Homo sapiens: one gene and its partner. The protein of the gene in region 1 interacts with the protein of each later gene in a pairwise test. Each region holds a gene or a part of one and is shown on either strand. Other genes may lie near its edges.

Evidence for each region. Proteins that work in one complex are often made in the same cells at the same time.
Region 2: the proteins of CAMK1D (region 1) and ASAH1 interact in a two-hybrid assay, tested with the Homo sapiens proteins (one large-scale study listed by BioGRID and IntAct).

What each region holds. Positions count from the first base shown.
Region 1 is NC_000010.11:12,758,547-12,762,046, forward strand, and holds part of CAMK1D (calcium/calmodulin-dependent protein kinase type 1D), read left to right. Parts: intron 1-2,401; coding exon 2,402-2,540; intron 2,541-3,500. UniProt on the Homo sapiens protein: Calcium/calmodulin-dependent protein kinase that operates in the calcium-triggered CaMKK-CaMK1 signaling cascade and, upon calcium influx, activates CREB-dependent gene transcription, regulates calcium-mediated granulocyte function and respiratory burst and promotes basal dendritic growth of hippocampal neurons.
Region 2 is NC_000008.11:18,067,108-18,070,607, reverse strand, and holds part of ASAH1 (acid ceramidase isoform a preproprotein), read left to right. Parts: intron 1-729; coding exon 730-816; intron 817-3,309; coding exon 3,310-3,388; intron 3,389-3,500. UniProt on the Homo sapiens protein: Lysosomal ceramidase that hydrolyzes sphingolipid ceramides into sphingosine and free fatty acids at acidic pH.

The sequences.
Region 1 (3,500 bases):
AACAGTACATGCTATCCTTTGATGCTTCAGTTTTCACTGCATTGCTGCCCTATGGCACTGCTGTAAGACAGAAAATATTTTATGCAGATTTTTTCATTCAGTAGAATTCGTCCATACCTTATATATCACATAATGGGAAAAAAGAGGACCTTGACAGAATGGGAAGCAGGACAGGTAGGTTTTGAGGGACGCAGGTTGGCCAGGTTTGGATCATGGGGTCCTAAGGGCAGGAGGTGGTGGGAGCAGTGGAAGGGGTAAGCGTTCTTGCCAGAGGTCATCCAGCAGTTGCAGAGGAGAGGAGGCAGTAGCAGGCAGAACAGTGAGAAGCAAGCCCTGGAGACAGCAGTTAGGGAGGCTGCTACTGGAAGGGGGCCTATGTGGAAGGGCATAATCGTAACAGACGTTCCGCCTTCAGAGTGAAAGCTGCCTCGATTGCATCCCACTGGGCATGCTCACTGGCATGTAATGGGCACCCAGGAAATGTTGAGTGAGTAGTTGAATAAATAATTAAGTGAATGCAGGCCGGATGCAGTGGCTCACGCCTGTAATCCCAGCACTTTGGGAGGCTAAGGCGGGAGGATCTCTTCAGCCCAGGAGTTTGAGACCAGACTGGGCAACATGGTGAAACTCCGTCTCTACTAAAAATACAAAAATTAGCCGGGTGTGGTGGCACGTACCTGTGGTCCCAGCTACTCAGGAAGCTGATGTAGGGTGGGAGGATCGCTTAAGCCCTGTAGGTCAAGGCTGCAGAGAGCTGTGATCATGCCACTGCATTCCAGCTTGGGCTGCAGAATGAGACCCTGTCTCAGAAAAAATAAGAAGTGAATGTCTCTAGGGCACCCAGACTCACCTTGTCCCTAACAGCAGTCTACCTCTTCTGGTACATTCTCGAGCTCTGCAAAGTTTCAGATGTTGAAACTTGTTGGGGGAAGGTTCTTGAAAAATGATGAGAGGAGAGAAGTTGGTGTCAGGAGGAGTATCTTGGGCTCTTGGCTTACCTAAGCATGGATCATTGAGACAACACGGTCATCAAAATGTAGTTTCTCCCAGTCGTTTCCGTTTCTTTTCACTCTTGGAATTGCTTTTTTATTTCTCCTGAGCACCTTTTCTTTCTTACCTAGATTGTCAGTTTGCCTTGGAAATGAAACATTATCCAAGCACAATATTGCCTGCTATGACTATAGGTAATGGAAGAGACAAGCACATAGGCCTTTTACGGCTGCAGTGGTTGTTTGATTAGTTTTTTTAAAAGAAGGTTTCAGTGGATCAGTTATTGCGCATAAATTGTCGTGCCTTTTGGAAAATGAATCTTATCTTTGTGTGTTTGTGTATGAGTGTGTGTTACCGTAGGGCTTGTCTTTTGTTATATCTGTGAAAGCTTTAAGGGTTGTTTATTTAAGTTGCTTTTTGATTTTAGCATTTCAAATCTGTCTCATCTTGTTTTTGAAAAATGTTTCTTTCTTTTTTTTCAGTAGTGTTAATAAATCCCTTGAAATTTATTTCCAAGATGGCTTAATGATTTGAGATGATTTGGAGAACACTAGTTGAGTTGTTTGTATTCTGGCTTGTACACTTCCATTATTTTGTTGAACTCAGGGCAGCATAAAATATCAGAGCTGAAAGGTGCCAGAGAGGTTGCCCCCACAGGGCTTCTTGACCCTTGCCAACCTAGTCCCATTTTGAAAAATGTTTAAAAATGTTAAATGCAATCTGAAATGCAAAGCTAATAAAAAGGATACAGCATCACTAAAACCAAAGCAAAGTAATGAAATATAGTCTTGATTTCTTGCCTGCTTTTTCATAAATCACAAGTGGCTTTGAGGTTCTGATCATTCCGAAGGCATGCTCCCACCCACTGTTGAAATGGGTGACTAGATTCATCCCCTAATTTTACACATAAAAACATCAAGGTCCAGGGATTCAGGCGGTGTTCGTATCCCAGTATATTAGGAGCAGAACTTGGTCAAAAACCCACACATCCCGTTGGCAGGCCAGCGTTTTGCCCACAACACTCTCGGTCATTTAAGGATACTGTCTCATGCAAAGGAGACATTTTATTCAGGGTCATCTTCCTGTATCCGAGGACGCTGGTATTCAGGAAGGGTTTTTTTAAACTTTACATCATCACAGCAGAACAGAGGCAGAGGCCTGGACAGAACCCAGGTGTGGCTGGTCCGTGGATCGTGTTTTTTTAAATTTCCTTTACTTGGTTCCAGACATTTGCTCTGCTGTGACATGGAAACATTTCCTGGCTATAGCCTCTGAGGAATAGGGGGGCAACATCTCAATCTGAAGATGGATTCATTTTTGCAATAAAGTTTGGGATTTTTTTCACATTGGAAGCTTTCCCTTCACAATTCAACAGATCCTTTCAAACTTCTAATATGTTCTTTTTTGCCAGGGTGTCCGGTGGAGAGCTGTTTGACCGGATAGTGGAGAAGGGGTTTTATACAGAGAAGGATGCCAGCACTCTGATCCGCCAAGTCTTGGACGCCGTGTACTATCTCCACAGAATGGGCATCGTCCACAGAGACCTCAAGGTGAGGCCATCGCTCAGCAGCATCCTGCAGCCACTCTGCAGCCCGCAATGCACGCGACCAAGAGGGCTGATGCCAGTGGGGGCATGCAGCTGCTCTGATGTAGAGTGGGTGCAGCAGATGGTGGGCATTTGTGTACTTTGAGTTGTCAGGGCCTTTGGGATCCAGACCCAGAAGTATCTTGGAAGAAGATGAAGATTCACATGGCTGGCCACTGTTCATGAGATTTTTACAACCATTATGTAGCCAAAGGGTTACAGGGAGGTGGGTTATATATTGCTTCGAGCCTATCTAAGAGACGATTTTGCTCAAGACACGTAGGCTACAGAAACCCTCCTCCCGGTGCAGTTCCGCAGCACCTTTGCCAATTCCAGCCCCATTGCAGCACAACACACTGTATAAAAGAAAGAGAGCAGTGGTCAGACATCATGAGAGGAAAGTGAAGGGAAACAGAAGGTAAGCAGATATAGAAGAGGGAGAAGAGAAATAGAAGGGAAAAAGACAGGTTAAAAGAGCTATGACTGGCTGGGCGTGGTGGCTCAGGCCTGTAATCCCAGCACTTTGGGAGGCCGAGGAAGGCAGATCATGAGGTTAAGAAATCAAGACCATCCTGGCCAACACGGTGAAACCCCATCTCTACAAAAATACAAAAATTAGCTGGGTGTGGTGGCGCGTGCCTGTAGTCCCAGCTACACAGGAAGCCGAGGCAGGAGAATCGTTTGAACCCAGGAGGCGAAGGTTGCAGTGAGCCGAGATCGCACCACTGCAGTCCAGCCTGGCAACAGAGCGAAACTCCGTCTCAAAAAAAATAAATAAATAAAAATAGTGTCTTGCAGGTTCTTTTCTTACAGTTTCCTAATGAGGTTTTGGTATATTGACCCTTTCCCCGTTGGCACAGAAGGATCTGGGCCTTATATTGGCATATATGCCCCTCCCCAGCAGGTCTATGTAGACACTGAAGGA
Region 2 (3,500 bases), on another chromosome or scaffold:
TGTATTAATGTATTAATCGAGGCCAGGCACGGTGGCTCATGCCTGTAATCAATCCCAGTACTTTGGGAGGCTGAGGCAGGCGGATCACCTGAGATCAGAAGTTCAAGACCAGCCTGGCCAACATGGTGAAACCCTGTCTCTATTAAAAATACAAAAATTAGGCCAGGCGCGGTGGCTCATGCCTGTAATCCCAGCACTTTGGGAGGCCGAGGCGGGTGGATCACGAGGTCAGGAGTTCGAGACCAGCCTGGCCAAGATGGTGAAACCCCGTCTCTACTAAAAATACAAAAATTAGCCAGGCATGGTGGTGCATGCCTGTAGTCCCAGCTACTTGGGAGGCTGAGGCAAGAGAATCGCTTGAACCCGGGAGGCAGAGGTTGCGGTGAGCAGAGATCGTGCCATTGCACTCCGGCCTGGGCGACAAGAGCAAAACTCCGTCTTAAAAAAAAAAATACAAAAATTAGCTGGGAATGGTGATGCACACTTGTAATCTCAGCTACTTGGGAGGCTGAGGCAGGAGAATCGCTTGAACCTGGGAGGCAGAGATTGCAGTGAGCCGAGATGGTGCTACTGCACTCCAGCCTGGGTGACAGAGCGAGATGCTGTTTTAAAAAATATATATATAAATTGTCAAATAGCACTCTCTTTTAGCTACATATGGGTAAGCCAAAAGGTAATCTTGACAGCATTTCATTATGTCTTTTAGTAAGCATTTTATTTATTTTTCAGCTAAAGGTTATAGTGAATTCTCTGAAGAATATGATAAATACATTCGTGCCAAGTGGAAAAATTATGCAGGTGGTGGATGAAAAATTGGTAAGAGATATTATTTCTCACAATAAATGTTAAGCACATAGAAAATGCGCTGTTATTTATTTAAAGGCATAATTCAGCAACCTCTTCGCAGGGACTTGGGCAAATCTGCATGAATCTAGCTCACTGTCAGAACTTCAGAGGGACTTAAATTTGGGGAATTGGTAATATTAGGGTTACAGCATAGCAAATTATGGTTTCGTAAAAGGGGATGGGACTACATTACGACATTGGGCAAATAACCATATTTCATCTGGGAGTGTGGTATTTCCTTCCCTTTATGTAGTGAGTTCACTATTGAAGACTTGGTTTTTTTTCTTAAGTGTCTCAGGGACATCCAGAGATTTTTTTTTTGTAGATATGAGCAAATGACATACTCAGCCTGGCCCCTTATTCTGTAGAGTTCCTCAGTAGCTCTGACCCTGAAACTCATTTGGGCTGAGTGTTTCTGTGCAATCACCAAACCATTTCATTTTCATCCTCATCATGCAGGAAGACTCCATTTCTCAGCCCCGTTTTTGTTGACGCAGAACCAATGAAACACCTAGGGCCTGGCCCCTAGAACTGTTAAAGGGATCCTCATTGCTCTTGATGGCAGATTTTGGGCATTAATGACATTTGGGGTTGGGCAGCTTTTTTTTTTTTTTTTTTTTTGAGACCTCATCTCACTCTGTAGCCCAGGCTGGAGTGCACTGGCATGATCATAGCTCACAGCTGCCTTGATCTCCCAGGCTCAAGGGATCCTTCTGCCTCAGCCTCCTGAGTAGCTGGGACTACAGTCACGTGCCGCCACACCCAGCTACTTTTCTGAATTTTTAGTAGAGACGGAGGCTTGCTGTGTCACCCAGGCTGGTCTCCCAACTCCTGGGCTCAGGCGATCTTCCCGCCTCAACCTCCCAAAGTGTTCTCCCAAAGTGTTGGGATCGTAGGTGTGAACCGCCATGCCCGGCCTGGGTTGGATATTTCTTTGTCGTGGGCTTGTCTACATTCCAGGATGCCCGGCCTGGGGTGGGTGTCTCTTTTTTGTGGGGCTGTCATGTGCATTGCAGGATGTTTAGCAGCTCAGGATGCCCGGCCTGGGGTGGGTGTCTCTTTTTTGTGGGGCTGTCATGTGCATTGCAGGATGTTTAGCAGTGTCCCTGGCCCTTACCCACTGGATGCTGGTAACACCCCCTCAGTTGTGACAACCAAAAATGTCCTTAGATGTTACCAAATCTCCCGTGGTCGAGAATCATTGCCCTAGCGGCTGAGTGCTGTGGCCACATCCTCCCTATGACACTTGTACCTGCCAAGCACCAAACCCATTATCCCTCACGTGCATGCTCTCGGAGCTTTTGTTTCAGGCTATCCTTTATGTTCATACTTACCGGACTTCCTCAAAACAAAAAAATGCTGGCAGGAGCAAAAGAGGATGAGGCCCCCACGTTCCCCGTATGCCTTAATCTCCCCTCTACTCTGAATGTTATCAGGGAGGGCAACATTGCAGAGAGTTTTTGTGCCACGCCTTGGAATCGGACAATACTGGGTTTTAAGGCTGGATCAGTCACATACTAGCCTTGTGTCCTAGGGAAAGTTTCTTAACCTATGAAACCTCAGTTTTCTCATCAGGGAGAATAATAATTACTAATATATATTTCATATGGTGGTTGTAAGGGTTAAATGACATACTGTGTATAAAGCATAGTGCTTGGATGTAATAAGTGTTTAATAAATACCCATTACGTCACATTTGTTTGTTAAATGGCTGGAACATTCCACTTGGGGAATGCTTTGAGTTCCTAGGGAGAAAAAAAATATGTTTAGGTGACATTACATGTAATTACCAAGTTGGTTAAAAAAGTGAGATTCGTGAATTTTAAGCAGATTATCTCAGCAAAAGGCCGTGAACTTAAGTTGTGATCTGGATGTTAGTAGTTGCCATTGAGAATAAATATATGATGTCCACCACTGAATTTGCTCAATGTCTCTGGTTTGCTAAAAGAATGCAGTTACTTCATCTTAGCTGAAGATCAGCCATTAACCATGACACAGGGCTATGGATAGAATAGTGCAGGTTTATCTCTGTGAGTGTGGGAAGGAAATGGTAAGAACGGTATATGCCAGTGGCTAGAGGGTGAATTCGTGCAGAGAGATAAGGAGTGCTTGTTATGATGTTTTTGTGGTGTGGGTCAGGTTAGGTCATCCAAGTGGAATTACTCTCGTTCCTGCCTTCTCTGGAGAATGATGGAAAAATAAGGCAGGAAAAACAATCTGAGAATCTGGTCTCTGTATAGGGGCCCAATATTCAGTATTACATAGAATCTTTTTATAACTACATGATGTAAAAATGCTTTAAAAAATAATTCCTATCACTTATTATGATAGCAGTATCTAGAAAAAATTATATGTCCAAGAACTAGATTTCAAAGCATGCTTTTATTATATTTGTTTATATTATATTATATATTTTTTATTGTTATTATGTTAAATGCTTTTATTAATATATTTGTTTTCCAGCCTGGCCTACTTGGCAACTTTCCTGGCCCTTTTGAAGAGGAAATGAAGGGTATTGCCGCTGTTACTGATATACCTTTAGGTAAAGTTCACTTAGAAGCTTTAAAAAAAAAAGTAATTAAATTCTTTTACAAGTTTCCATTGAGGTGTGATATACATACAGCACAGGTGCTGTATGTCTTAGATATACAGCA